Linked DNA regions of Homo sapiens. The protein of the gene in region 5 purifies or fractionates together with the protein of the main gene of each other region. This does not show direct contact. Each region holds a gene or a part of one and is shown on either strand. Other genes may lie near its edges. The genes, in order: HEXB, GNA11, TMPO, MMS19, ABCE1, SUCLG2 and ZNF207.

Evidence for each region.
Region 1: the proteins of ABCE1 (region 5) and HEXB purify together in Homo sapiens (affinity purification with mass spectrometry; 2 studies listed by BioGRID). This does not show direct contact.
Region 2: the proteins of ABCE1 (region 5) and GNA11 purify together in Homo sapiens (affinity purification with mass spectrometry, with the first as the bait; one study listed by BioGRID). This does not show direct contact.
Region 3: the proteins of ABCE1 (region 5) and TMPO purify together in Homo sapiens (affinity purification with mass spectrometry, with the first as the bait; one study listed by BioGRID). This does not show direct contact.
Region 4: the proteins of ABCE1 (region 5) and MMS19 purify together in Homo sapiens (affinity purification with mass spectrometry; 2 studies listed by BioGRID). This does not show direct contact.
Region 6: the proteins of ABCE1 (region 5) and SUCLG2 purify together in Homo sapiens (affinity purification with mass spectrometry; 2 studies listed by BioGRID). This does not show direct contact.
Region 7: the proteins of ABCE1 (region 5) and ZNF207 purify together in Homo sapiens (affinity purification with mass spectrometry, with the first as the bait; one study listed by BioGRID). This does not show direct contact.

What each region holds. Positions count from the first base shown.
Region 1 is NC_000005.10:74,709,233-74,712,732, reverse strand, and holds part of HEXB (beta-hexosaminidase subunit beta isoform 1 preproprotein), read right to left. Parts: intron 1-3,500. UniProt on the Homo sapiens protein: Hydrolyzes the non-reducing end N-acetyl-D-hexosamine and/or sulfated N-acetyl-D-hexosamine of glycoconjugates, such as the oligosaccharide moieties from proteins and neutral glycolipids, or from certain mucopolysaccharides.
Region 2 is NC_000019.10:3,111,362-3,114,861, reverse strand, and holds part of GNA11 (guanine nucleotide-binding protein subunit alpha-11), read right to left. Parts: intron 1,533-3,500; coding exon 1,378-1,532; intron 1-1,377. UniProt on the Homo sapiens protein: Guanine nucleotide-binding proteins (G proteins) function as transducers downstream of G protein-coupled receptors (GPCRs) in numerous signaling cascades.
Region 3 is NC_000012.12:98,546,590-98,550,851, reverse strand, and holds the end of TMPO (thymopoietin), read right to left. Parts: intron 3,280-4,262; coding exon 2,994-3,279; 3' UTR 501-2,993; downstream 1-500. UniProt on the Homo sapiens protein: May help direct the assembly of the nuclear lamina and thereby help maintain the structural organization of the nuclear envelope. Possible receptor for attachment of lamin filaments to the inner nuclear membrane.
Region 4 is NC_000010.11:97,457,824-97,460,422, reverse strand, and holds the end of MMS19 (MMS19 nucleotide excision repair protein homolog), read left to right. Parts: intron 1-190; coding exon 191-377; intron 378-681; coding exon 682-764; intron 765-896; coding exon 897-1,061; intron 1,062-1,140; coding exon 1,141-1,200; intron 1,201-1,522; coding exon 1,523-1,623; intron 1,624-1,703; coding exon 1,704-1,731; 3' UTR 1,732-2,099; downstream 2,100-2,599. UniProt on the Homo sapiens protein: Key component of the cytosolic iron-sulfur protein assembly (CIA) complex, a multiprotein complex that mediates the incorporation of iron-sulfur cluster into apoproteins specifically involved in DNA metabolism and genomic integrity.
Region 5 is NC_000004.12:145,118,811-145,122,310, reverse strand, and holds part of ABCE1 (ATP-binding cassette sub-family E member 1), read right to left. Parts: intron 2,380-3,500; coding exon 2,158-2,379; intron 1,138-2,157; coding exon 1,078-1,137; intron 979-1,077; coding exon 920-978; intron 1-919. UniProt on the Homo sapiens protein: Nucleoside-triphosphatase (NTPase) involved in ribosome recycling by mediating ribosome disassembly. Able to hydrolyze ATP, GTP, UTP and CTP. Splits ribosomes into free 60S subunits and tRNA- and mRNA-bound 40S subunits.
Region 6 is NC_000003.12:67,529,113-67,532,612, forward strand, and holds part of SUCLG2 (succinate--CoA ligase [GDP-forming] subunit beta, mitochondrial isoform 2 precursor), read right to left. Parts: intron 75-3,500; coding exon 1-74. UniProt on the Homo sapiens protein: GTP-specific succinyl-CoA synthetase functions in the citric acid cycle (TCA), coupling the hydrolysis of succinyl-CoA to the synthesis of GTP and thus represents the only step of substrate-level phosphorylation in the TCA.
Region 7 is NC_000017.11:32,353,157-32,356,656, forward strand, and holds part of ZNF207 (BUB3-interacting and GLEBS motif-containing protein ZNF207), read left to right. Parts: intron 1-3,500. UniProt on the Homo sapiens protein: Kinetochore- and microtubule-binding protein that plays a key role in spindle assembly. ZNF207/BuGZ is mainly composed of disordered low-complexity regions and undergoes phase transition or coacervation to form temperature-dependent liquid droplets.

The DNA.
Region 1 (3,500 bases), on a different chromosome or scaffold from region 5:
TTATAGTAAATACAGGGACATATTAATTGACACTGTGGGGTGCAATCAGCAAAACCCAGACTGTGGGAAACTGTAGGACACATGACTCAGTTTCTTCAACAACAATTACAGGAGAAAAAGGTGGGAAGAGCAGACCTGTAGATCAAAAAAGAATTACTAGACATATTAACTCACCACAATTATGGAGCTTATTTGTATCCCACTGCAAATGTTTTAAAATAATTTTTTAAATAAGAGAAAAAGACAGTTGGAGAAATGTGAATTTTTTTTTAAAATTTAAAGCATTTCTTTTTTTTATTATTATCATACTTTAAGTTTTAGGGTACATGTGCACAATGTGCAGGTTAGTTACGTATGTATACATGTGCCATGCTGGTGCGCTGCACCCACTAACTCGTCATCTAGCATTAGGTATATCTCCCAATGCTATCCCTCCCCCCTCCCCCACCCCACAACAGTCCCCAGTGTGTGATGTTCCCCTTCCTGTGTCCATGTGTTCTCATTGTTCAATTCCCACCTATGAGTGAGAATATGCGGTGTTTGGCTTTTTGTTCTTGTGATAGTTTACTGAGAATGATGATTTCCAATTTCATCCATGTCCCTACAAAGGACATGAACTCATCATTTTTTATGGCTGCATAGTATTCCATGGTGTATATGTGCCACATTTTCTTAATCCAGTCTATCATTGTTGGACATTTGGGTTGGTTCCAAGTCTTTGCTATTGTGAATAGTGCCACAATAAACATACGTGTGCATGTGTCTTTACAGCAGCATGATTTATAGTCCTTTGGGTATATACCCAGTAATGGGATGGCTGGGTCAAATGGTATTTCTAGTTCTAGATCCCTGAGGAATCGCCACACTGACTTCCACAATGGTTGAACTAGTTTACAGTCCCAACAGTGTAAAAGTGTTCCTATTTCTCCACATCCTCTCCAGCACCTGTTGTTTCCTGACTTTTTAATGATTGCCATTCTAAATGGTGTGAGATGGTATCTCATTGTGGTTTTGATTTGCATTTCTCTGACGGCCAGTGATGATGAGCATTTTTTCATGTGTTTTTTGTCTGCATAAATGTCTTCTTTTGAGAAGTGTCTGTTCATGTCCTTCACCCACTTTTTGATGGGGTTGTTTGTTTTTTTCTTGTAAATTTGTTTGTGTTCATTGTAGATTCTGGATATTTCCTTTGTCAGATGAGTAGGTTGCGAAAATTTTCTCCCATATTGTGGGTTGCCTGTTCACTCTGATGGTAGTTTCTTTTCCTGTGCAGAAGCTCTTTAGTTTAATTAGATCCCATTTGTCAATTTTGGCTTTTGTTGCCATTGCTTTTGGTGTTTTAGACATGAAGTCCTTGCCCATGCCTATGTCCTGAATGGTAATGCCTAGGTTTTCTTCTAGGGTTTTTATGGTTTTAGGTCTAACGTTTAAGTCTTTAATCCATCTTGAATTGATTTTTGTATAAGGTGTAAGGAAGGGATCCAGTTTCAGCTTTCTACATATGGCTAGCCAGTTTTCCCAGCACCATTTATTAAATAGGGAATCCTTTCCCCATTGCTTGTTTTTCTCAGGTTTGTCAAACATCAGATAGTTGTAGATATGCAGCGTTATTTCTGAGGGCTCTGTTCTGTTCCATTGATCTATATCTCTGTTTTGGTACCAGTACCATGCTGTTTTGGTTACTGTAGCCTTGTAGTATAGTTTGAAGTCAGGTAGCGTGATGCCTCCAGCTTTGTTCTTTTGGCTTAGGATTGACTTGGTAATGTGGGCTCTTTTTTGGTTCCATATGAACTTTCAAGTAGTTTTTTCCAATTCTGTGAAGAAAGTCATTGGTAGCTTGATGGGGATGGCATTGAATCTATAAATTACCTTGGGCAGTATGGCCATTTTCATGATATTGATTCTTCCTACCCATGAGCATGGAATTTTCTTCCATTTGTTTGTATCCTCTTTTATTTCATTGAGCAGTGGTTTGTAGTTCTCCTTGAAGAGGTCCTTCACATCCCTTGTAAGTTGGATTCCTAGGTATTTTATTCTCTTTGAAGCAATTGTGAATGGGAGTTCACTCATGATTTGGCTGTTTGTCTGTTATTGGTGTATAAGAATGCTTGTGATTTTTGCACATTGATTTTGTATCCTGAGACTTTGCTGAATTTGCTTATCAGCTTAAGGAGATTTTGGGCTGAGACAATGGGGTTTTCTAGATATACAATCATGTCATCTGCAAACAGGGACAATTTGACTTCCTCTTTTCCTAATTGAATACCTTTTATTTCCTTCTCCTGCCTAATTGCCCTGGCCAGAACTTCCAACACTATGTTGAACAGGAGTGGTGAGAGGGGGCATCCCTGTCTTGTGCCAGGTTTCAAAGGGAATGCTTCTAGTTTTTGCCCATTCAGTATGATATTGGCTGGGGGTTTGTCATAGATAGCTCTTATTATTTTGAGATATGTCCCATCAATACCTAATTTATTGAGAGTTTTTAGCATGAAGGGTTGTTGAATTTTGTCAAAGGCCTTTTCTGCATCCATTGAGATAATCATGTGGTTTTTGTCTTTGGTTCTGTTTATATGCTGGATTACATTTATTGATTTACGTATATTGAACCAGGCTTGCGTCCCAGGGATGAAGCCCACTTGATCATGGTGGATAAGCTTTTTGATGTGCTGCTGGATTTGGTTTGCCAGTATTTTATTGAGGATTTTTGCATCAATGTTCATCATGGATATTGGTCTAAAATTCTCTTTTTTGGTTGTGTCTCTGCCCGGCTTTGGTATCAGGATGATGCTGGCCTCATAAAATGAGTTAGGGAGGATTCCCTCTTTTTCTATTGATTGGAATAGTTTCAGAAGGAATGGTACCAGTTCCTCCTTGTACCTCTGGTAGAATTCGGCTGTGAATCCATCTGGTCCTGGACTCTTTGGTTGATAAGCTATTGATTATTGCCACAATTTCAGCTCCTGTTATTGGTCTATTCAGAGATTCAACTTCTTCCTGGTTTAGTCTTGGGAGAGTATATGTGTGGAGGAATTTATCCATTTCTTCTAGATTTTCTAGTTTATTTGCATAGAGGTGTTTGTAGTATTCTCTGATGGTAGTTTGTATTTCTGTGGGATTGGTGGTGATATCCCCTTTATCATTTTTTATTGCGTCTATTTGATTCTTCTCTCTTTTTTTATTAGTCTTGCTAGCGTTCTATCAATTTTGTTGATCCTTTCAAAAAACCAGCTTCTGGATTCATTAATTTTTTGAAGGGTTTTTTGTGTGTCTATTTCCTTCAGTTCTGCTTTGATTTTAGTTATTTCTTGCCTTCTGCTAGCTTTTGAATGTGTTTGCTCTTGCTTTTCTAGTTCTTTTAATTGTGATGTTAGGGTGTCAATTTTGGATCTTTCCTGCTTTCTCTTGTGGGCATTTAGTGCTATAAATTTCCCTCTACACACTGCTTTGAATGTGTCCCAGAGATTCTGGTATGTTGTGTCTTTGTTCTTGTTGGTTTCAAA
Region 2 (3,500 bases), on a different chromosome or scaffold from region 5:
GACGGAAAGCCACCAGGAGGGGGTGGACCGCGCACTGCGCCACCTACGGCAGTGTCTGAAGCAGCCCGGAGGGCTCGGGCCAATGGAGACCCTGGGGTCGGGATACGAGCCTCCCAACCTCTATCCTCTCTGGGGTCTCAGGGGACAGAAATGACCCAGCACAAGAGAAAGTCCCAGGACGAGGACTCCAGCTGGTTCGGGGGGTTTGTAGTAGAGCTGTCCAGAGACGGCCACCAAGGAGGGAGACGGTGACCCAGGGCAGGGGACTTCCCGAGAGAGGCCTGGCTGGCCCCAGGGATGAGGCTTCACAAACAAGCGCATCATTAGGAGAGTCGCAGCTGCAGAGGCTGCAGAGGTCCCAGCAGATCCCCGTGCCCGTCTCCCTGCTGCTCCCTGTACGTGGGTGCGGCACCCACCACGAGCAATGAGCCAGTGTCTACACAGCGCAGCTACTGAAGTCCACGCTTGATTCCGGCTTCCTTGGTTCCCCTCATGCCTTTTCCTGCCCAGCCCTCTGGGTTGGGACAGTTTCCCGTTTTTGACGCCCTGGGCAGTCCTGAGTGGGGCGCCCCTCGAGTGGTCTGCCTGGGGTGGGGGTTGTAAGAGGCCGGGTGCCTGCTCAGACCTTTCCGGCACCGCGAGGAGGCCCTGGCGTTTTGTTCCAAGTGCTTGGTTATCTGGGCCCTCCCACAACCTCCCAGAGGCAGGGAACACACAGAGGACGGGCAGGAGGGGCGGGGGACAGGCCTGTCCCTGTCGCCTTAGGGTCTCTCCCGGTGCTGGGGGAGGGCCGGGGCCTCTGCCTGCCAAGCATGGAGGGCAGCAGTGCACAGCCTGCCACGCGGGGGCCTCCACCTGCGGCCATGGCCCGGCCACCTGTCAGCACACAAGTCACCCCCTATCCCAGGCCCAGAGACTGGGAGAACCCTGACATCAGTCAAGGTCACAGCCAGTCACTAGTGGGAGACGTGGCTCTGGGGACGATGTCCCAGGCAGGAGCGAGACGGCCCAGGTTGTGTCTACCTCCCATCCCACGGCCCTCCTAGGAGACCCTGGGTTTCCCCCACAGGCCACAGGCCGGGCTCCAGCACCGAGGGTGGCCAGGAGCTCACTCCTGACCCAGGGAGGGCAGCGGCAGGGCCAGGCATACAAGCAGGCCAGTGTCACACCAGAGTCCACCGGCTCCTGCCAAGGCGTGGCCCCTCCAGGGATCTGCTCTGGTCCCTCCATCCGGCCAGGTGGCCCGGGCCCACCGCATCCCTGCCCCCGGCGAGCAGGCAGGGGGCACCACAGACGCCGCGGAGGCCTTCCCGAAGGGTCCCAGGCACCGGCCCGCAGCTGCCGTCCCCAGGCCGCCAGCGGTGCGGCCGCACTTACTACTTGGCAGAGTCGGAGAGCTGGTACTCGCGCCTGCGGTCGTAGCATTCCTGGATGCCCGGGTCCTCCCACAGGGTCTTGATGGCACTGACGTACTGATGCTCGAAGGTGGTCACCTTCTCCACGTCCACCTCCCGGATCAGGAGCGCATTGGCCTGCGAGGGCGGGCAGGGGAGACGTCGAGAGCTCGCTGGGGCCACACATCCACCAGAAAGCTTGTGACGGCCCCTCTTCCAGGCCTCGGCTGGCCCGGGCGGCATTCCGCAGGCTGTGCAGTCAGGACCACTGACAGTTCCGTGTGAACACGTGTCAGAAAAACGCGAGGCCGCCTGGCGGTGTGGTTCCTCCGAACAAGGCCCCACAAGCAAAGCCTCCCGGCGGTGCGGTCTGCAGGGTGCCGGGGAGGCCGGGCTTCGATTCACTTCTTAGAGGTGGGGAGGGGACGGTGTGGGGAACAAGCACGTGTAGAACACACACACTTCAAACCCAGGACCCACAGGAGGGCAGTGCAGCGCCGAGCACGACCAAGCACGACGACAGAACTAACCAACAGCCCCAGCACTCGCTGCCTCGAATTCTCCAGACACACCGGGAGGCAGGAAGCCCAGTCACAGGACGTTGCAACCAGCGGCATCGCCTGCAGTGTGCAGCTCCAGACTCGGTTTCTGCCCCGCCGGCTTCTCTCTTTCGTCCGAAAAATGCTTATCAAACATCATCAAGAGCAGATACCACACCCGGTGCTAAGGACGGCGTGTGGCCCCCGAGCTGCCGCACTCAACAGTTTACATGGTGCCCCAACACGAGCCGCCTCCCCCTCACGGAACCCTGGGCGGCGGGTGGCATCAGGCCCCAGCTTGCTGCCCTGTCACAAAGGAAGGCCAACCGCACAGACACGTGCTTGCACACACATGTGAACACCCTTTGGGGCAGACACTGTGGGGGGGCCATCCTTTCCCCTCCTGATGCTCTGTGTCCCCGTCCCCGGGGCGCACAGGCCGACATGACCAGCCACAGTTTGGCTGAGGGACTGGGGAGGGGACATACTGGGTGGGACCCAGATGGGAAAGAAGGGAGCCTTGCCCTGGGCTCTGGGAGCCACGGGGCCCTCCCAGGCCCCCCAGAGTGGAGACTCAGCCCTTGCTTGTCCCCTCTGAGCAACGCTCCCTGCCCCGGACTCCGACTTCAGCCCTCCCCTTGCCCTGCCCCCAGCCTCTCAATCTGGGCTGGGATAAGCACACCTAGGGGGACTTGGAAAAAGAGACACAAACCCCAAAAATCCCACTCCCTGGAAACTTCCAGATTAGACAGCAGCAATCTGCTTCTGCAGAGAGCCAGAGAGCACACCCAGCCTTCCCGACCACACGGACTGTCTCCAGCACTCGGCTCTGCTGCTGCTGCTGAAGCACCATGGGCAACATGGCAGAAATGGGTATGTGCCAATAAAACTTTATCGACAAAATCAGTCTGCAGTTTGCAGATGCGTGTTTCAGAAGCTGATGGAGATCTAAGCCCAAATATGAATATGGACTCTCAGAGAGGGCCACAGCTGGAAGAGATCACAGCGGGAGACAGGGCAAGTGGCAAACCAAGATCTAAGGGCAAGAGCCCTACCCCTGAAAGCAGGGCTACGAAAGCGGGATCAATGGCCCCTCAGCTGAAAGGCCCCAGGGAGGCCACTGGCAGGAGCCACGGCTGCACGGCTGCTGGGCCTGCCCCATAGGGCGGCCACTGGGGCAAACTCTCTGGACGCTTCTCAGAGGGCAAAGCCAGAGTCACCCTGGGACCCAGCAATTCTGCTCCCAGGCGTAGCATGCAACTGAGGGAAGGGAACACATCATCCACATAAACACACGTCCACAGACGGTCACGGCAGCTCCGTTCCCAACAGCCCACACATGAAGGCACTCAAATGTCCTCCAGGGGATAAATGGGCAAATACGCGGTCCCTCCATGCACTGGAACATGACTCAGCCATGAACAGGGACGAGGCTCTGACACAGGCCACTGTGTGGATGCACCTTGAGGACGTCACACTCAGTGAGAGACGCCGGACACAAAAGGCCACATGGCGTGCAATCCCATTTCTATGAAATGTTCAGGACAGACCGATCCACAGAGGCAGG
Region 3 (4,262 bases), on a different chromosome or scaffold from region 5:
TTGAGTGAATCAATACATATTAAGCACATAGAAAAGTACCTAGCACATGGTAAGCATGCAATAAAACTTGTTGTTTTAAGCCTTTGATGCGATTTGCCTTATAATTAATTATGGTGTCTATACTACCTTGAGAAACACTAATTTAAGTCAAATCACCTCTGGGGACACATGAATGAGGAAGACATAATGGCACTTTCATCTTGTGAGCACAGCTCCATGACGTATCACAGTGACACGGGCTTAGTCTCAAAGCAAGACTAACAATCATAAGGGTCATAGGTAAATACTAAAGACAGTAAAAGTGGTGGGAAAAAGGAACTAGGTGTGGGAGAGGTGCCTTGGAGCGCTTAATGTCATTCTGTGAGTACAGTAGCTACACATTGCTTACCTTTGAATAAACGAGAACCCGATTACAATAAGAAGTAAAACATATGAACAGACTGAAATAAAACACAATAATCCATAAATATCACATAAGAAATGTTATCCAGAAATCACAGTTTGTGCTATCTGAAAACCATTTATTGCAACGACAAAACTAGAGGTTAATTACTTTTTATTATTGAATTATATTGTAAAGTCTACATCTACAATTTAATCAGGAAGAAATGCTTTGCATTTACATCAAGGACACATTTATTCTAATGGAATAAAACAGACACACACAAAAGACCAAGTACATGTTTTTAAAAAATGACTACATGTTTCACCTGGTCCTATTTTTGCTATTTGGACCATACTTTTAAGTGAATTGATCTTACATACATGTTAAGTCTGATTTATCTCCCCACATTTTTAAACACTAAATGAAGCTTCTCACAATTTCTAATTATAAACAAAAGGCTGAAAACAGTATGGGAAACAAAGTTTCAAAACAAAGAAAAGTTGAGTAAAAGGTGCCCCCTCTATGGCTCATCTGAAAGAAACATTTTACTCAGAGAGGCAAACATTTCTGATCTAGGAGTAAGTTTCCCACTCACTTTGCAAGGACCCACTCATTCTGCAGAAAGACCTACAAGTCTTTCTGGTCTCAATTGCAAAGTACGTGAAAATGTGTATGAAAGATCTAAAAGCTAAATATTAGAATAAGGCTAATTGAAATCAAAATTGTGTGCTGGTCTAAATATACATCTTCGGCTTCTTCCTTTTTAGTAAGTATTTTTATTTCAGATGTATTTAAAAATAACTTACATTTTTAGTGTGCTTTATGGTCAATGACTGTAAAGTTGAAACTCAAATGAGTCAGTTTAAAATTTTTGTCTCATTTGATTCTATTGAAATTTTAATCACCTACTACTTTAATCAAGTTATTCATGAGGTAAGTTTCAGCTTAAAAAAAAAAATCATCCACAAAGATAACCATTTCAAGAGTACACAAAATCATAATGCCGGCCGGGTGCAGTGGATCACACCTGTAATCCCAGCACTTTGGGAAGCTGAGGTGGGCTGATCACTTGAGGTCAGGGGTTCGAGACCAGCCTGGCCAACATGGTGAAACCCCGTCTCTGCCGAGGCAGGAAAATTGCTTGAACCTGGGAGGCAGAGGTTGCATCGAGCCCAGATCGTGCCACTGCACTACAGTCTGGGTGACAAGAGTGAGACTCCATCTCATAAAAAATAAAAAAATAAAAAATAATCATAATGCCCACCTCTTAAGAGTATACAACTTTATTAACTACTGCTTATGATGTAATATAAAAGCAAGTACTTTTTGTACTTTTTTATTTTTTTTGAGATGGAGTCTTGCTCTGTCGCCAGGCTACAGTGCAGTGACGTAATCTCTGCTCACTGCAACCTCTGCCTCCTGGGTTCAAACGATTCTCCTGCCTCAGTCTCCCTAGTAGACAGGACTACAGGCGCACATCATCACGCCCAGCTAATTTTTTTGTATTTTTAGTAGAGACGGGGTTTCACCATGTTGGCCAGGATGGTCTTGATCTCTTGACCTCGTGATCCACCCGCCCTGGCCTCCCAAAGTGCTGGGATTACAGGCGTAAGCCACCGCGCCTGGCCCTTTTTGTACTTTCTAATCAAATTATGCTGGGAAATATAGGGCAAAAAAAGCTCGGCAAAATTTGTTTCTGGTAACAAGACAATGCAATAATGAATCCAAATGAAACATAAGACCAGTGTTTACAATTTCTAACTTCTAAACAAACATACACACACTTATCTAAAACATATTTTGGTAGCAAACTGGATGACTGAATAAATGTTTTGCTGTAAATAAAAAATACAAATTTCCAATTATAGCCTTATAGCTAGCTAAACAGCTTTTCAAAACATGTACAGCTAGCCAACAATTCTCTAAAATATGTATGTTACACTAAAAGATCTCTGCTAAAAATCTACTGTATGTAAATGGGTCTTACTGAAATAGGACTTTCATGATACTGTGTCTTAAAAAGTGAGTATGATAGGGCTACAACAACATTACTATTAATAAAGGTTACAGAAGAGATTATTGCTGTACTTTTCCTCATAAACACCATCAAACTTTGTTGCAGTTACAAAAAGTACAACCAAGTTACTTTTCCTCTTACTGAATTTCATTATGTTTCACATATTTGCAGTTTTTATTCAGCAGAGAATAATTCTTAAAATCTTTTCTGTAAGAATTCTAAGTATTTAAATGTGTAGCTTCACATTATACTACCATGTTTCACCCTTCGTTTCCCAAATACACAAAAAACATATACATTTTTTCAAAAATGAAATAAGATGCCCACATTAAAAAAATAAAGCCTACAAAAAGTTCCAGAGCTAAAAAAGATTATTCATATGGCACAAAGTGATCTCCTACTAGTCCAAAGTTCAAAAACATTTTAATGAAGTCCATTTATATATATTTTGTTTGCTTTTCAATGAAATACTACATTTATTGAGGCGAAATCACATTATTTTTAGTTCTTGGAGTCAACAAGTGTACACAAATGTTTTTCAACAGTTATTGAAAATAGGAGACCAAGTTGAACGTGCCAAAGAGATACCATTCAGTTGGATTTTCTAGGGTCAACATGAAGAAAATTAGAGAAGGGATTTACTTGGTTGGTTTCCATAGCTTGATAGACCAAAAACAAAAAAACTGCCACAACAACAAACAGCAAAATTTTTATCCATACGGGAATGGAGCGTCCCTTTTTTGTCTTTTCTGACTTGACATCTGCCAAGGGAACATACTTAGGAACATATTTAGATGAAAAAGACTCCTCCATCCTGAAATCACTGAGTTCTAATGGCCGGCCTGCAGCCCCTTTGATTGGTCTGCGGCAACTAGCACTGTTGGGAGTGAAAGGAGGAAAAGAAAAATAATTTTAGATAAAGGCATGATTTAGAGAAATAACATAAAATGTCATTGCCACTCCTAATTCCAAGCACATTCCCTGAGGTAACAGTAGAAAATTGATACATATAAAGCAGTGAGGTCAGTCAACCTATTTAAAACTTCTACATATTTTCTATTTTAAAAGTTAGATGGGCTGGGCATGGTGGCTCGCGCCTGCAATCCCAGCACTTTGGGAGGCCAAGGCGGGCAGATCACCTGAGGTCAGGAGTTCAAGACTAGCCTGGCCAACATGGTGAAACTCTGTCTCTACAAAAATACAAAAATTAGCCGGGCATGATGGTGGGTGCCTGTAATCCCAGCTACTCAGGAGGCTGAGGCAGGAGAATCGCTTGAACCCAGGAGGTGGAGGTTGTAGTGAGCCGAGATCACGCCACTGTACTCCAGCCTGGGCAACAGAGCAAAACTCCGTCTCAAAAAAAAAAAAAAAGTTCGATGCATCCTTTATTAGAAAAGAATATTCAGAACACTGATAAATAGTCACTAAACCTGCCTTCTTAAAGGCTCTTCAAAGCTCATGTTTAGGAGTAAAGAGGAAAAACAAAACAGTTTTGGCTGTGTTTCTTTCAGTTAAAAATTAAGATACATAAACACAGCCTTTTCAATTAGAAAAGAGAAACTTAGGGGGGAAAAACTATTTCTCACTAGATTTTCGTTTAGATTTTAACATATGAATTTAAGTAGTAAGTAAGTGATTTATTTAAAATCCTCCATTTACCAATCGCAATTTTGAAACTCATTCAACTTTCAAGAATATTTACTGGTGGGCTTAGGGGAATTAAACTGCTCCCAAAAGAACAGTTCGTTCACTTATTTATTTAAAAGTCGGTGGGTAGACAGAGTCTCATTATGTTGCCCAGACTGGTCTCGAACTCCTGGGCTTAAGCAATCCACCTGCCTTAGTCTCTTGAGTAGCTGG
Region 4 (2,599 bases), on a different chromosome or scaffold from region 5:
ATGTTTGTATTTTTTGTAAGAACTGGGTTTGGCCATGTTGCCCAGACTCCTAGACTCAAGCAGTCCACCTGCCTTGGCCTCCCAAAGTGCTAGGATTACAGGCATGAGCCACCACACCCGGCCCCATCCTTATCTTTGGCACTTAAGATTCTTCTTCCCTGATGTACCTCAAAGGCTCTTTTTTCTCCAGCTCATGGGCCTCCTGAGTGACCCAGAATTAGGTCCAGCAGCAGCTGATGGCTTCTCTCTGCTCATGTCTGACTGCACTGATGTGCTGACTCGTGCTGGCCATGCCGAAGTGCGGATCATGTTCCGCCAGCGGTTCTTCACAGATAATGTGCCTGCTTTGGTCCAGGGCTTCCATGCTGCTCCCCAAGGTGAGGAGTCTGAAAGAAGGTCCCCACATATACACATCTCTCCTTTGCTTGGCCACATTCCCTAAGATAATTTAGGGCCCGCTTGCTTCTTTAGAGCTATATTGTGGTCTGTGCCTAGAAGACTAAACTTCTAGATTCTTGTCCCACTTCTTCCTTTCATGGGCGTATCTTGCTTATTCTGAGCGTGAAGGGCTCTTTCACCCGTTTGTAGGCTGATGTCTCAGCCTCACCACAGATTGGAATTGATTTCTCAAGCTATATATCTAAGTCCAATTTCTCCCCTAAGCCTTTCCATTTTTTACAGATGTGAAGCCAAACTACTTGAAGGGTCTTTCTCATGTACTTAACAGGCTGCCCAAGCCTGTACTCTTGCCAGAGCTGCCCACGGTAAGTCCCACAGGCAGAGCTTCTAAGCAAAGGACAAAGCTATTCTTCCCCAGATGGGGCTAGAAAGGGGAGGGAACAAGAACCAGGATCTTCATGATGTGGCCATCCCCTACCTTGCCCATTGCCCCTTAGCTTCTTTCCTTGCTGCTGGAGGCCCTGTCCTGCCCTGACTGTGTGGTGCAGCTCTCCACCCTCAGCTGCCTTCAGCCTCTTCTACTGGAAGCACCCCAAGTCATGAGTCTTCACGTGGACACCCTCGTCACCAAGTTTCTGAACCTCAGCTCTAGCCCTTCCATGGTGCGTTGAGCCCCAGCAACTCTTAGGCACCAGCATCTCTCCCTGGGCATGCTCTCACCTCCTTGTGGTTGTGTTCCAGGCTGTCCGGATCGCCGCACTGCAGTGCATGCATGCTCTCACTCGCCTGCCCACCCCTGTGGTAAGTACCTCAGGTGTCCTTCCCTGGCCTGGGAACATCTCAAGAGACACATAAGTACCTTTTTGCCTTAGTCAGGTGGGCTTGGCCACCCTGGTGTGTAATTGAGATCTGAATTACAAGGTACAGATCTTGTAATTCTGGGCCCAAGGATTCTTTTCCTTGGGCCCAGAAGGTAACAGAAAGGCCATCCTGCCACTTAACATCCCTTGGAATCACTAAAGATGTTTTGCTTTCCTCAGAATATTAGTTGTACAGAATCAAAAAAGCGGTACTTTCAGTTGCCTTGGATGAGCAAGGTTGATTATATCCTCTGACTCCACAGCTGCTGCCGTACAAACCACAGGTGATTCGGGCCTTAGCCAAACCCCTGGATGACAAGAAGAGACTGGTGCGCAAGGAAGCAGTGTCAGCCAGAGGGGAGTGGTGAGTTTCTAGGTCGTGGGGAGAGATGGGACCAAGATGAGCCTCATCACTAATGCTGCCAACTTTCTTTTTGCCTACAGGTTTCTGTTGGGGAGCCCTGGCAGCTGAGCCCTCAGTCCTGGCCTAGACTGTTCTGACAATCTAACCTGGGATTACTAACTGTTGAGCCATCTTCCCCAAAGCAGGGAAACCACTGGTCTCTGACTGCCTTTCCCACAGACACAGCACAAATGCTAGGCCTCTGTTGCATGGCTGTACAAAGAACATAAGAGTCCATATTTCTAGTGGATTTGTAAAATAAGTGTGTGTGAGACACTTGCGTTTGAAGAAAGATCTAGGGTCCTGGGTCTCTTGCATTTATATGTCAGAAAAGGGGCGATATGCTGCTGAGGGGTGAGTGCATATGAGTGTGGCCCTGAGGACCAGGGCTGGCAGATGTTGTCTACCTGCTGAAGAATAAAGATTTCTTTTGGTAATGGGGCTGTCAGATATTTCCCCCACCCCACATATGCCTCATATAACCAGAGGCATCACTGGAATAACAATGACAGGGATTGGCCAAAAATTTTTCAGGGTAACCAGGACAGTAGCACATGCCTGTAACCCCAACACTTCAGGAGGCTGAGGCAGGCGGATCACTTGAGGCTAGGAGTTTGAGACTAGCCCTGGCAGTATAGCAAGAACCCATCTCTACAAATAATTAAAAAAAAAAAAAAATTAAGCTGGGCATGGTGGCTGACGCCTGTAATCCCAGCATTTTGGGAGGCCGAGGCGCATGGATCAGTGGAGGTCAGGAGTTCAAGACCAGACTGGCCAACATGGTGAAACCCCATCTCCACTAAAAATACAAAAATTAGCCAGGTGTGGTGGCATACGCCTTTAATCACAGCTACTTGGGAGGCTGAGACACAAGAATCACTTGAGCCGGGCGCGGTGGCTCACGCCTGTAAAGCTTGTAATCCCAGCACTTTGGGAG
Region 5 (3,500 bases):
GATAAGGCTGAATTTTAGAATTTAAAGCTAAGCTTATAGAGAGCATCAATGACAAAACTTTTATGGTAAGCTAAGCCAAGTAGACAAAACATAAATTGAATGTTGAGGTACTGAGGAGTTCATTACAACACCCGCAGAAATCAAAGGAGGTTAACTTTAACAGAATGGTTTCAAGGACTGTGGCATTTGTTAATATTTCATTTCTTTTTATGGCTGAATAACTAAAAGACATTTGCTCATTTTTAATTATAAGAGTTCTTTATACATGCTGGATACAAGTCCTTTATTGGATATATGATGTGCAAATGTTTCTCCCATCTTGTGGGTAAAGCCTTTTCACCTTCTTGCTGTTGTCAATTTGCAGCACAAAATACATTAGGTTTTTAATTATTTATTTAGCAAAAAGATGACAAACATCTTTATTTTTTTATTTTTTTTTGAGACAGACTCTCGCTTTGTCGCCCAGGCTAGAGTGTAGTGATGCAATCTCCACTCACTGCAAGCTCTGCCTCCCAGGTTCACGCCATTCTCCTGCCTCAGCCTCCTGAGTAGCTGGGACTACAGGCGCTGCCACCACGCTCGGCTAGTTTTTTGTAGTTTTAGTAGAGACAGGGTTTCACCATGTTAGCCAGGATGGTCTCGATCTCCTGACCTCGTGATCTGCTGGCCTAGGCCTCCCGAAGTGTTGGCATTACAGGCGTGAGCTACTGCACCCGGCCAAAGATGACAAATATCTTTAAAGCACTTTCTTAGCAGTGGATATGAATCAAGGATTGGACTCTTAATACATTTGTTTGCAACTATCAATAAAACTGTATAGAATCTAATTTGGAGAAAAATTTTAATATAGTAAAAGATGAAAGCTATAGGCATATATACAAAATTTTCTTTAGTAACCATATAAAAAATAATAACTCACAGTTGATTTGGGACTAATTTTCTGTGGCTTATAACTGACATTTAGAACTGGTACTTCTCCTGCAAAATAATGAAATACATAAGACACTAAAAACTGCCCAGATCTTTAAAGTTTACTGTGTAAAACAGAGTAAAAAGACTCAACAGTTACAAATGTACCTCCTTCATCAGGTTTAAGTCTTCCAGCAAGCATTCTGATAAATGTCGTTTTACCCGTTCCTGGCAACACAACATATGACAGTTTGATCTGAAAGATGCTTGACGTTTAAAGTAAATCACTATGTCCTATTTGGTTTTAACTGAGAAATTTGTTTTAAAGATATACACTGACATTATTGAATTCTGAAGTTTATATAGAAAAATACTTAAGTCTTTCATGGCTCACCTCTGAAGTGTCATTCTAAGGTAATTAAGAGGAATAAAGACTAGTCAAAGCTTATGACAATTTTAATAAATGGTATGTCTATAAAGTTTAAATCCTGCAATAGTTTGAAAAGATCTACTTAGCTAAATTATCAGGGCACACAATTTATTAAGACAGTATAGACTGTTTTATGAAAGATAACTGTAATTTTAAAGTTTACTTATATAAAATATTTAAATTAATTGCAACCCAATTCAAAATTCCCATTATCTAAAGACTGATACATTGTAACAATCTTTATATAAAATTTATCTTCTATAGTTTTGTAAGCTGTAAGATTACAATTCAAATAGTTCTTAAATCATGAAGGCAATATCACATATTTAGTAGTCAAATTCATCTTATATCTACACTTATGACAATTTATTATGAAATATATGCTGGTAATACAATTATTTACAAAGGTAGATTGCTCTGAATTTAAAATAAGAAAAGTTCCACATTGAAGTGTATGAGGAAAAAATTTTTAAAGCTGGATTATTTCTGAATCACCATTTATCCTTTCCATCTTAGTCAATTTATAAGATTAATAACTGCCTTATCAATTTACATGTAAAAAACCAGCTGACAAAGAACACCTTATTTTCACTAGAGGTTATAAAACAAAATAAGAACTATTAACCTGATTGAATTACAGTGAAATTGAATTACACAATGCCAAAAAAATGTGAAAGTACACTAAGAAATTTGTGGGTTTAAATAAAACTCTGCTTCTAGCCCTATAACATATGATTCAAATTTTTCCACAAAACAGTTAAAACTAATTTACTAGATAAACAGGAAGATTTTTACTTATCACAAAACAGAAAACTTACCATTTTCCCCCAGCATCACCATAATTTCAGAATCTGTAAACTCTCCAGCTACAATTGCTAGCTCAAATTCTCCCATTTTTTTCTTCATTCCTGGATATTTATACATACACATCTTTTTAACTTCTTCTTCATTTGCTGTCTCAGCCACTTTAAAAACAAGTGATGCATCTCTGAATCTCAAGTTTTCTGTTGGAACATAGCCATCCAAAAAAATGTTTATGCCTGTTGGGAAGAAAATTGTCAACCGGGAGAAATCATTAGAGCCAAAATCCTAAGCTCTCTTGGGAGCAATCTATAGACTATATACTTTAAATTTCTGTGGATTTTTGCTAACATGTTGGTCTGCATATAAAGAAGTAACTTAAAAAACTATATATATTTAATGTAAGTTTAAATAATTCATGAATATATATGCATGTCCCCCCCAACCACATGAAGTACATCTTCTCATTATCCTGTAATTACTTTTTCCATCAGGTTTTATGCAAAAGAGAGCACATGATGTCCTTTTTGCTTTATCTTTAAAGCGAAAATGACAAATATGTAAGAGTATTTTCAGATTGATGTAATATTGATATAAAAGTTTGGGGGATAAATTTTTTAATATACAATGTTATCAATATTTAATTTCATATGAGACATAAGCACATATTTTGAGGTTATAATTTATTGCTTTAAAAAAATTAATCCTGCAGGTTCATATGAAATTGAATATGAGCTAATTCCAGTTAACATTTTTTTAATGGCTTCACTGTACAAAGATAACAACCATTATCTAAACAGATTTTAATAACTTAAATCCACATTGTATACAAGAACCCTCTGTAATAAAATTTTAAGATCTACAATGGCAGACACACTGAAATGAAAAGCGTATTTGAGAAACAATGAATAATCCATATTTCAGTGTTTCCTATATTTAAGTGAAGAGAAAGCTGAAGTTTCTTGGAAGGTCTTGACGTTATTCATTTTATTTGGAACTGAGAGACACATCATGCAGCCTGTATCCTCATCCTAGAACACAGGTGTTCAATACATCTTTGCTGACAGAACAAATGAACAGATTACATTTATTTTGCCAAAATCAGCATGTTTTTTGATCTTAAACTATCTAAAACCTATAAATGTGAAGTTAAAAAATTAAATAAAAACAATTACATAAAAACATAAACTCAAAGGAACCTTAGCAGCCACTTGGTTCAAATACCTAACTTATTTTGGAAAATAAAGGCTCAAAGAACTAAGTGACTTCGTTTAAAAAAAACACAGCAAGTCAGTCTTTACAGTCCTACTTCAATGTTTGTCTTGTCAATTTAAAAATGAGTTCAAACCATAATCACCTT
Region 6 (3,500 bases), on a different chromosome or scaffold from region 5:
CAAACCACTATTGAAGACACCTTTTCCTCTTCCTCCAGCTAAGATCTGGGCTTTTAAAACAATTTCTTTTGCATCTGAAAAAGAAAAATCCAGAGTTGGTAGCTGATTTTAAATTCTTTTTTTGTTTTTTAAGCAATAAGGAAAGCAATAATGGCACATAACTTCCAAGTAACTGGTAAAAGCTCTCTCAAACTAACTTTGAAAATAAATGCAATGAAGAACTTCAAAAAAACATCTATGAGCCTAAATACAAAGCTTGTTTACTGAGGATATTCAAATGCTTCCTACCAGTTTAATCATCTAATACTTGACCTTCCCAAGGGAAAGCAAGACATGTGTTCCCTTGCTCTTTTGAGTGTGTCAGAAGAAGCTAAATAAATCCTGGAAGGAGGTATTAATTTTACTGTGTAATGGCACTCCCATGTGGCAGAGGCACCAGTTGGCCAGTAAGAGGAGCTAACCATCAGAGATGTCAAAGGGAAGACTGGATTATGCGGGGGAAGGTTTAAAGACAAGACACAAAGGTCATAGTTAATAACTGCATTATTGGAAACCAACAGTTTTCTGAGCAGTTGTTCTATATACTGATAGGGTTGGGAAAGGGAGGAGGAAATGGATTAAAACTAAAAGCAAGCAATATTTTAAAATCATTGGCAAGGTAACAAAATATCCTGGGGGAAAGTGGTTGTGGAATCTTTGTTTCTCATCACACTCCACGAATGAAAGAACTCTCTAATCTTGACTTTTTAGACGAGAGTTATTAACACAAATATCTTCCCTTGCAGGGAAGTTGGGTGCATGAAGTAGCCCAGTGACAAATGGGGCCTTTAGCAAACAGGGTAGCTCCCCTCCCCAACCACCAAAACAAAACAAAACAACAACAAACAAAAAACTGCCTCCAAATCAAATATGTTTAATAAACCAAATAGCACACAACTGCAGACCACAGCTGATATCCTCTGTTTGTGAGTCATCTTTATTTAAAATCACAGAACCCAGCTGATCCCCTATAAGGCCATGAGAGTATTCTGGTTCAGTATACCAGATTTAGAATCTGCAAACCCAGGTTTCAATCTGGCCTTCATCCCTCACCCAGCTGTGTGACATTAGGCAAGTTACTTAATGTCTCTGAAACTCGGTTTATTCAACTGTGAAATGATGACAAGGGTTGTTTTAAAAATTAAATGAACACACATGAATGCTTTATCCCAGAGCCTGAAAACTTGTGATTAATTAAAAACTATTGCCTCGACCAGTTAGTTCATTTATTACCTTTGTATATTGTAAAGAATGAAAGGAATCATTACAGAGATGGCTAAACCAAAAAACTAACAAGCGCTCCATTAAGTTTGGTTATTTCAGCTATTACTGTCACTGTCATCATCATTGTTACCCACAGGCAAGCAGGTAAAGGTTCAAACGGAAAGAGCTGTGGAAGGTTTTATCATCAAGGCAATGGGGAGCTACAGAAGTATTTTACAGAAGGCATTCAGCCAGCTGATGTCACACCATTGAGGCTCCTTCACTGCCTTCATTGGTTAGTCTTCTTGTCTCCTATATTTGCTTACACTCAGAAAGCTGAAGCCCACCTTCTTCTCAGAAGCAAACACAGTTTTTTCTTAGAAGGCTGTCCTGTGTACCCTCTGGCAATAATTTCTGCCCTGGATACGAACCATCACAACATTGGTCAAGCCCTGTCTTATAATAAACTGGTTTCCATCAAGCTGAGTAGAAGACAAATTAATTGTCAGAAACTCACAAGGAAAGCAACCAAGTAAAATGAATACATTGCATATTTAGCTTACTGCAAGAACAGTAGTAAGAGCAAGGATATTGGAGTTAAACAGACCTGGTTAAAATCTCCAACTCTACCTATCACTTTCTTTGTAGAGAAGAAACAACTGAGATTCAGAAAGGTAAAAGTAGCATGCCCTTCTGTAAAGTAGTCATATTAAAGAAGTCTACAGTGTAAGGATGATGTGAAGAATAAATGAAATACAGTAAAGTGCCTGGCACATTTTTTTAAAGTCAAAATATGATAGCTATCAACATTATAATAATTTTCAGCAATTAAGAAAAAATGGCACACAGGAAGACATTTCCTGTTTTTCTTTGGAAGACATCAAGTGGAAAAAATACTTTTTGCTGTCTACTCAAATTTTTAATTGTGATCACTTCAAATTCTTTACATAACTGGCATTCCATTGCCATTATCATTTTTCATATCCTTGTCATCCTGAAGAGATGCTTTCCTCTCTGAGCTTTCCAGCAGCAAAACTTGAAAGCCAGAGAGAATACCTAATTGGGCATTGTTAATTGGCACTACATAGGCTTGATTAGATCAGCTTTAGTCACTAACCATCAAGACACAGAAAGAGTTGTATCCTCAATGAAGTGTTGTCAATTAAACGTGTCGCCATTTGACCTCCAGTCAAAGTATTCCATGCAAAACAGTGTTGGTAGAACAAGCAACCAGTTCAGAGACTATGAAACCAGAGATCAGGACAAATAGAAAAAGACAACAACCTACGCACATCTGCAACATACACCCCAGGCCAAAAATGAGTTCACTAAAATCATCTCTTCTGATTACATCTCAAGTGCTAAATCAATATAGTAAGTCAGCAAGTCAGCAGCCCAAAGTAAAGCAAGTTTTTCTCATCTTGAGAAAAACTCTCATGAAGTAATTTAATTCAAGGCTTATTTACTCAAGGTGCTGAAAATTAAGATGACAAATCCCACTCAACAGTAACTCGTCTCTTCATTCAGTATTTACCAAATTGATTCACATGTACTAAATGTCACTGTTTCTATTTATTTAAAGATCTGATCTCTCCCAAAACTCAAATTTCTGTTTTTATTTAACATTGCCTCTTGCCCCAATCCTGAACGGTATTAGAAAAGAAAAAAAAATCCCATATATGAAATGCAATTTTTGTCTGAATAAGACGACTTAACCATCCTTTAGAAAAACAAGCTAAAAGGACAGAGGAAAAAATTAACTCTAATATGAGTTGGGGTTTTATTTTTGTTTTTTGTTTTAGACAGAGTCTCACTTTGTCACCCAGGCTGGAGTGCAGTGGTGTGATCTTGGCCCACTGCAACCTCTGCCTCCCGGGTTCAAGCGGTTCTCCTGCCTCAGCCTTCTGAGTAGCTGGGGTTACAGGCACATGCCACCATGCCCAGCTAATTTTTTGTATTTTTAGCAGAGATGAGGTTTCCCATGTTGCTCCAGCTGGTCTCAAACTCCTGAGCTCAGGCAATCTGCCCACCTCAGCCTCCCAAAGTGCTAGGATTACAGGCATAAAATAGATTTTATATAGAAGTAGACAACAACCTAGACATTGATAATTATATTATTGGACTCTGAGTTGGTATAACTTGGGTCTGGATAACTCCAAAGTCTTTGCTCTTAATTGCTATTTTTATACGCAGTAGCCTAAGTATGCAACGTCTTCACTAAATTTTGTTCCTTTCTTAGTGAGTTTCTGAAAATAACC
Region 7 (3,500 bases), on a different chromosome or scaffold from region 5:
GGGTGAGACTCTGTCTCAATAATAATAATAATGACAATAATTTCTAGGTTTTTAAAGTTCTTTTAATAAATAGCGAGAGCATTGTAATTTATATTTTTTAAGATCTAGTAAGTACCTTCATGTCTCATTCAACATTATTCTACTTTGCTTAGTCCTAGAGCTGTCTGAATTTTTGCTAAATTAGACCTTACAGAAATATGAGATGAGCAAATACCAAATCATTGGAAACTACTATGGGTGGGAGGTAGGGAGACGTGATTTCTCCAGGTTTAAAGATAAATTTATATAGATCCTTTTCACTCCAGATACTTTAACAATAATTTAATATTCATTTTAAAATGTTGACCAGATGTGGTGGCTCACGCCTGTAATCCCAGCACTTTGGGAGGCCGAGGCTGGTGGATCACCTGAGGTCAGGGTTTCAAGACCAGCCTGACCAACGTGGTGAAACCCCATCTCTACAAATACCAAAAATTAGCTGGGCATGGTGGCAGGCACATGTAGTCCTGGCTACGGGGGCGGGGGGAGGGCTGGGGGCGGGGGGCGCGAGGCGGGTGCTGAGACAGGAGAATCACTTGAACCCGGGAGGCAGAGTTTGCGGTGAGCTGAGTTTGTGCCACTGCACTCCAGCCTGGGTGACAGAGACTCTGTCTCCAAAAAAAAAAAAAAAAAAAAAAAAATTGTTAGAGAACCTACTACATGTTAGACTCACAGCTGTTCACTGTTGCAGCCATTAGTTACATGTGGCTATTTAAAATGATATAAATATCTAAATGCTCAGTTTCTCTGTCAAGTAGCTAACTTATATTGGGTAGTGTGGATAAGAACATTTTGTTTTGATTGATTGACAGGGTCTCATTCTGTTGTCCAGGCTGGAGTGCAGATCATAGCTCACCGCAACTTTGAACTCCCTTACTCAAATGATCCTTCCACCTTAGCCTCCTGAGTACCTGGGACAACAATTGTGTACCACCATACCTGGCTATTTTTAAAATTTTATTTTTGTAGAGACAGGGTCTCACTATGTTGCACAGGCTGGTCGCCCAACTCCCAGGATCAATCGATTCTCCCACTCGGCCTCCCAAAGTGCTGGAATTACAGTTGTGAGCCACTGAGCCCGGCCATTTTCTTTAATTCTGAATGAAATAGGGGTTTAAATAGAGATGTATGCTCTGTCAGTTTTTTTTTTGTTTTATTTTGAAACGGAGTTTTGCTCTGTCTTGTGCTCACTGCAGCCTCCGCCTCCTGGGCTTAAGTGATTCTTGTGCATCAGCCTTCCAAATAGCTAGGATTACAGGCATGCACCACCGTGCCTGCCTGAGTTGTATTTTTAGTAGAGATGGGGCTTCACCACGTTGGCCAGGGTGGTCTTGAACTCCTGGCCTCAAGTGATCCCATCTACTTTGGCCTCCCAAAGTGCTGGGATTACAGGCATAAGTCACTGCAGCTGGCCTCTATTAGACTTTTTTTTTTTTCTTGAGACGGAGTCTCTTTCGTCCAGGCTGGAGTGCAGTGGGCGTGATCTCGGCTCACCGCAGCCTCTGCCCTCCGGGTTCAAGCAATTCTCCTGCCTCAGCCTCTCGAGTAGCTGGGATTACAGACGCCTGCCATTGTGCCTAGCTAATTGTTTTGTATTTTTAGTACAGATGGGGTTTCACCATCTTGGCCAGGCTGGTCTTGAACTCCTGACCTCCTGATCCACCTTCCTTGGCCTCCCAAAGTGCTGGGATTACAGGCGTGAGCCACTGCGCCCAGCCTGTAAGACTTTTTAAAAGGATTTTTCTGGCTGCAGGGTTGAAAGTAAAGTGCAGAGTACGGTGAGACCACTTTAGAAGACTTAGAATATTCCAGACAAGAGGAGATGGTGACAGAGACCAGAGTTTGATAGGTTAGATATGGGGTATAAGAAAAAGTGAGGAGTTAAGGGTGGTCTCAAGATGTTGATCTCAAGATGGTCTGGCTAGGTGCGGTGGCTCACGCCTGTAATCAGCACTTTGGTAGGCCGAGATGGACTAATCACTTGATCCTAATAGTTCGAGACTAGCCTGGGCAATATAATGAGACCCTGTCTCTACAAAAAATGCAAAGTTGGGCATGGTGGCACGTGCCTGTGTCCCAGCTACTCAGGAGGCTGAGGCAGGAGGATCGCTTGAGCTGGGGAGGACGAGACTGCAGTGAGCCGTGATAGCACTACTCAGCTCCAACTTGGGCTACAAGAGTGAAACCCTGTCTCAAAAATGTTTATTTTGAGCATATGACGAGATGTGAAAAGCTACAGGGATAATAGGCTTAAGAATGAGAATAAGGGAGTCCTGTGTTAATTTTGAGTGTAGGTATGTTTGAGGTCTATTAAATATCCAGATGAAAAGGTTACCGAAGCAGTTTGATGTACAAGTCAGGAGTTCATAGAAATTAAAACAGGAGATAGAAATTTGGACGCATACAATGTAAGGGTGGCTAGTTTAAGCCGCGCTACCAGATGTCCTTTGTAAGGACTGTAGTGTGGTTGGAAATTAGGTGCTCTCTGCTCTAGGCCACTTCCAACATTTGAAGGTCAGGAGATTAAAAGGAATCGTCTAAGGAGATGAAAGGTAGGAAAACCAAGAGTAGTGCCCTGGAAGTCAATGACGTGTTTCAAGGAGTGAGTTATTTAACTGAGTCAAATGCTGGTTCAGTAAGAGTACTGAGACTGGGTTAATAAGGTCATTGGTGACTTGACAAAGAGCGATTTCCAAGAGTGGTGAGGGTGAAGTGTGATTACGGTGCTTTGAAGAGACAGGGAGAGGAAGCGAAGGCATTCTTAGGGAGTTGCACTTTATGAAGAGCAGAGAAGTGGAGTGGAAGCTTCAAGGTTAGTTGAGAAACTTAGTAACATTATTGTCTGAGTGCCTTTATTTAGTCCTATTTTCACAGCAACCTGTGAGATAGACCTGGCAGTTAAATCATACCAATTTTATAGATGATAAACCCTAAGACATTATTAGTAAGTTAGGTGGTTCCCTGCAGTTTCTCATCAGTGCTTGCTCCTGTCTTTTCAACCAAGACGCTATGACTTTGCTTGGCAGGGTCCCAAGAAATCTAATTCTGGCTGTACCATAATAGATACACCTTTAATTGTTGCCCTTCTCAAAAATGTAGTGAAGATTAGTGTGTATGTGAATGTAATTGTTTATAGAATGCCTGTTGCATCATCTCTTTATTAAGAATAGCAAAATATTCCAAAAAACCTTAGGAAACGGCAATTAAGTCACTTGTTAAGCCGCTTTATCCATAAATATTTTAATTGCAATATAAGGAATAGCTTTTAACAATCAGATATTAAGATAATTTCTGAGTTTGATTTGCATGCCCCAGTTTCAAATCTTTAAGTGAGATACATTGCTAAGAAGAAAATACTTAGCTTTTTGTAGTTACTTTTCTGTTCGTACATGAAAATGTCTTAGGAGGAAAGAAAAAATGAGTATTATTTGGGCAAATATATCTAAGTCATTAGCCTAAAT